Regions from separate parts of the Homo sapiens genome. Here region 2 is linked to region 1. Evidence: fine-mapped expression QTL. A gene starts in region 1. The other region holds a variant in brackets. All regions are shown on one strand. Distances are between the middles of the regions. Region 1 holds the start of TRPC6 (transient receptor potential cation channel subfamily C member 6). Region 2 overlaps TRPC6 (transient receptor potential cation channel subfamily C member 6).

Region 1 (2,500 bases):
CAAATTTTAGGAAGAATATCTTATTGCTAGGTATAGTAACTAGAAAATTATAAGAATTTTAAATCATGGCTCCACATGTTGAAAGATCAAAAAGGAAGGCTGTTAAATCAGAAAGAACAGACTTCAGAATGATGCAGGTTGTTTGTTTCCCCAGGGAAAATGTTCTTTCCAGGGCCAAGAGCATTTTCTTATTTTTTCTATATTCCTTCCATCCATCCATCCATCCATCCGTCCATCCATCCATCCATCCACCCACCCACCCACTCACCCACCCAAGCATGCATGCATGCACCCTACACACCTGTGTCAAATACGAAGCTGGATCCTCAGGACACAGTGGTTTCTGCTCTCTCTGAGTTTCAGTTCTAAATTTAAAGGCAAACTCAGAAGTTTCTAAATGTGTGAGCTCTTTTCCCTTCTATCAAATCAATTGCATTTTCCCACACTTCCAACATTCATTTTGTTGTCCACCTGTTCATGGGAAGCAAAGGCACCTTTGCAGACAGATTTCAGTCTGGCTTTCTTTCATCCAATTGCAATGGGCCTCTGATCTTTTCATGGCTGGCTGCTTGCCATGCATGTCTCAACTTAACGAGCACCTCCTTGGAGGGGCCTCTTTTAACCATCTCATCTGAAGTAGTCATTCACCAGCTGCCATCACATCAACCTGTTTTATTTTCATTGTAGCATTTGTCCTTGATATTTTTTCATTTGCTTATTTAATTGGTCCCCCTTTCTGCCACGAAAGCTCTATGAGGGCAGACAGGTGCCTCATCTGCTTCTTTGCCTCCGAATTCTGAAATGATTTGAAACGCAGTTGGCATTCATTAAATATTTGTTGACTTAATGAATGGATTCTTAATTGGCTACTACTGCTTAAAGGTCTACAAATACTGATTCATCCTTGTTGACAAGTTTTTACTTCTCACACGTATGCATATTAATCAGAATTTAAAACTAAGTCTTAAAAATAAAACAGCTTGGAAACGTGGGAAACATCTGGCAGAGAAATCATTCTTGCATTCGCAGTGACGGAAGGAAAATTTTTTCTCTGAAGTAAGCAGGTTGTTGGCCTCTTTATCGGTATCATTGGAAAATGCTTGCCTATTTTTGTTGGTTTTCTCAGGAACTGGGAACATCTGGCGTTTGGAACATAGAACGTTGTTCATTTTTAAAGCAGAGTCATAATAACTTTATGAGTTGAGGGTAAGAGAGAAAATGACCAAAGAAAATGAAGGCAGTCTGGAGAAAGAAGAGGCTCGTGTCCCTTTTAAGGAACAGGTTTCCTTGGCTCTTTGAGAGTGGTTCTTAAAGGAAGCTTCCTACGAAGTCCGCAGTTGGTATCCTTACTAAATGAGCCAACTAAATAGTGGAGGGGAAAAAAAGAGTGCGTGCCTGGCTCCTCCTAGTTCAGGCTCATACCGCCTCCTGAAAGTTGTGGCTACAGGACAGGCTTTGGCTGCTTTCTAGAACGTCGCTCGGATCCCTTTAAAGGTGGGGATCTTGACGGAGAGTGCGGGGGATGAAGGCGGGAGCTGAGGGCTGGAGAGTCTCTGTTGACATAGTAACTCTTCAGCTCCGTCTCCCTTGCTCTCCGCTCTTACGCTTCGCTACCACCAGCGGCCCCGCCTGTGCCCTCTCTGCCCGGGCGCCCCAGACGCATCCTCGCGGGGTCTCCTCGGCCTGACCTGCTCAGGTCAAGATCCTCTTTGCACCCCCTTAAGTGGTGACTTTTCCCCGGGCCAGTGGGCGAGCCACTTGCGGCGGGCGTCTGCACCCCCTGCTTCACCGTCGTCCCCTGGGCACCGGTCTGCCCAGGTCCAGTTCGGCCGCTGACGCGAACCCTCCGCACCGGGTCCCCGCTGGAACTGCCCACTCGGCTCCCCCGGGAGCGGGGCCCAGGCCAGTCGGGCGTTCCCGCCATGAGCCAGAGCCCGGCGTTCGGGCCCCGGAGGGGCAGTTCTCCCCGGGGCGCTGCCGGAGCCGCTGCGCGGCGCAACGAGAGCCAGGACTATCTGCTCATGGACTCGGAGCTGGGAGAAGACGGCTGCCCGCAAGCCCCGCTGCCTTGCTACGGCTACTACCCCTGCTTGTGAGTGCCGGCGACGCGGGGCGGATCGGGCGCGGGCTGCGCGGAGGGAGGTTGTGCGCTCGCAGGAGTGGCCGAGTCCGTCCGCGCGCGTCCTGAACCCGCGTGTGTACCTCCTAGGACGGTGCTGGGAGGTCCGCGAGAGCCAGGGCTGGGACCTGAGTGAGTGGAGGGGCGCGCGGGGAGTGGGGGAGGCGGGGTTGTCTAGGTTTGCTCCTCGTAGGTACGCATGGATATGTTTGCCCACGAGAGTGAGACCGCATAGTAACACCACCATTGCAGGTGATTAGATGGGTGGTCGATTTCTCCAGACCCCTTCATCCTGCGCTCTACAAGAGACAGGATCGCTACGTAACAGGCGGGATCTGAACAGGGGGCTGATTCAGATGTGCGCCCGGGTGACTCTTAGCC
Region 2 (3,029 bases), 31 kb after region 1:
AATTACCTAGGTAAGAAGAAAGAGCAAACACTAATGGAACCCAGAACAACTTTAACCCATGGAGTGGCATCTTTGTGGCCTGTTTTAAGACTCAGGCATAGAGAGCAAGACAAACTTAGAGAGGACAGAGAGGGAAGGGAGTCAAGCGGGTGATGTGCCTACACCCAGTGGGAGGACAAGCTAGGGCAAGGAAATAGGGCTGGGATTGATTAAGGGTGTTATTCAGCTTTGAAAGAAGATCAGCTGCTATCTTTCTTAGGCTGGAGTTTACAATAACTTTCATTAACTTTTAGTTAATAAAGAATTTTGTTGATTGGTTATTTTTCATCTTTGTTTTTTAAAATTTTTTCCTCACTTTTTGGGTGATGCAGGGAAAGAAATATAGTGAGGCTTATAACTTGATTCTTCCCATTGCCTGGCACTGGGCAACCACCACCTGAAACTGGCCAGGGCACTGAAGGATACTGTAGAGGTCAGTGTCTCACACTGAAACCAGGAAAACCCACCATATTCCCAATTTATATATATGTTTTATACATACATTCATGCAAACATGGGAAACATTAAGGATTCCAACATAATCAGGCCACTGTTTATTCTCTTAACAGGTTAATTTTTTTTTTTTACTATTGCTCTACTTTGAAATAAGCTTAGATGCCCAGTTAACATACCAAGCATAACATAAATGTAAACAAAAGTTTATATGCAAATCTAAAACTTTCTTTTGTTGTTCCAGCTTCTCTACTACTGGCCTCTTAATAAAAAGCAGAAGTGAAAAGGAACAATTTTCATTTTCAGTTCTTCCTATTGAAGAGACACAGTATAGAATATACTGTCTCACACATCCATTTCACTGAATATACTGGTCTGTCTGCCTGGAGCACTGATTTCTCCTTCCTCTTTATTTATAGAACCATTTTGCATCTGACCACGTGTTCTTTAAAAGTCACCGGCCAGTGAATTCAGCTTCAACTGATGCAGAGTCCAGTGTGTCTATTTCTGTATTTCCATGTGCATTGCACATACCTCTAGCATAGCATTTAAAGCATGTGTGAAATGTGTTCACATAAACATTTTCCCCACAGAACTATGAACACTTACAACGGCATCTAGTATAGAGCAGGGACTTAATTTTTTCTTTCAATTGTCTCATTTTCCTTTACATATACCCTATTACTGAGCTTGGTATCTGGGACACGATAAATCTTAAGAATCTTTTTGTGGAGAGAATGATGTATGAGTGCACTTACTCTTCTAAAAGTAGCTATGGGAGCCAAAAGAGATGTGAATAAAATAGAGGAGCTTATCCATACATGTGTGCTAGAATATATTATAATTCTTAGTGAATGTGATCCAGTGTATGCTAAGTTCTCAGTAGGTGAGCTGGTTGAGAGGGAGGAAAGCTGGAAACTATTAGAAACACAACCTGGGTGGATTCTAAAGTACTGATCAGCAATCTAGAGTATAATGTCCAAAGGCACG[G/C]GACTAACATTACTTGCTTTAAACTAACATTGGCATCCAAGAGGGGCTGATGCGATAGGTGAGGAACGCAATAGGAGTTAATAGGCCGGGAGATATTTGCATTTAGCCTATGGTTTCATCTCAATTATTCTTTTGTTTATCCAGTTTGAAATAGAATACCAGCTGTGATAAAGGTTCAGTGAGAGGGTTACAAAGCCTAGTCAGGAGGAAACAAAAGAAAAATTAAAAAAAAATAAGGCTGGTATCAGAGTAGGCAGAGATGGGATAGGTTACAGGAAAGAGTTAGCTTAGAACAGCATTTGGTTTCTGCAGTCAACTTCAGTGTTTCAATGGTAAACTTCACTGTCTAGAATTATTACATTTATCAGAGCTGGCTCAGGTTCACGATCTTGAATCAGATGAAGAAAGAGGGGACTGGCACTGATTCTTTGATTACATCACCTATCTTACTTCCCATTAATACTCTACCTCACCCTATCTTACTTCCCATTAATACTCTACTTCCTGAATTTCTGCAAACCCAGACTTTAAGGAAGCTTCTCTTTTCACATTAGCCAAATACCACATATTTCTCAGCCGTTATCTGATAAAAGAATAAACATTTATTGGTTATGATATTTTCACTTAATTTCTGCCACTTGAAACAGAAAAACCACACTGGATAAAGTTTGACAGTGTTTGTCACTATCATTTATATTTATGCCATATCATTTACTCATGTTATTCCAAACACTAACCAGAACCCAGAATTAGACCTGATCCTGAGCGGCTATAAGATGTATATTTAGTACCAATTGAAAAATAATAATGTAGGAATTATAGAGGAACTATGCAGAGTTTGAGACATTTATCATCTTAATTAGATGGAGAATTTTTTTTAATGGATAATCTAATAGCTAAGACTAAACTTCTTGTAGGATTTGTTGTTGGATCATAAACCAGTGTTCACTTTTTGATTTGGGCAACAAATAAACAAACCTAAACAGAAGAAAGATGTCTGAAGAGCAAAACTTGAACTTTCTGACTCACCTCCTTAGTTTGCCTTGTGTCAGAATGGATTGACTAAAGCTTTATTATTTGGTACAAATACTTTCTGGACCATTTTGTTTCTTGACATATAAACTGCTGAGACAGAAGGTGATGAAAATATTTAGAGCCAAGTAATTTTGGATGATTAGAAAAGCCAGCCTCATGTGGCTTTGTTATTATGTTTTCAAATATAGGCCACTGTGTGTTTCAAACATGGGTTACGTTGATTTCTCCTCTTCGTCATCTTTCTTGTTTCTTACAGCTAGAGGTGACCTGCTGCCCAGTGGAAAATGTGCAGTGAATGGCCCTGGCTTCACTTAACAAAAGAAAACTAAGTTTCTAAGTTCTGAAAATAACTTATAAAGGGTGCATCAAGTATATGATCTTATTGGTGTAAAGAACTGTGAAGGGTCTGAGATTTTTACTTGCAAACTTACAAGATGGCCCGCCATAGTTTCATGGATGCCGATAAAAGACACAAACCTCCTGGGCCAAAGTTGGACAACCTTTAATCATAG

The links.
Region 2: its variant is fine-mapped to the expression of TRPC6 in whole blood (INTERVAL, PIP 0.92).

Annotation. Positions count from the first base shown.
Region 1 is chr11:101,582,926-101,585,425 of GRCh38, reverse strand. TRPC6 (transient receptor potential cation channel subfamily C member 6) reads left to right here and starts at 1,419. Exons shown (of 13, transcript NM_004621.6): 1 at 1,419-2,092. The coding sequence starts at 1,923.
Region 2 is chr11:101,552,005-101,555,033 of GRCh38, reverse strand. All of the region lies in intron 1 of TRPC6 (transient receptor potential cation channel subfamily C member 6), which reads left to right. Among named protein-coding and RNA genes, the nearest start is that of TRPC6, 30 kb to the left of the region's middle. The variant G/C (reference allele first, on the strand shown) is at 1,483.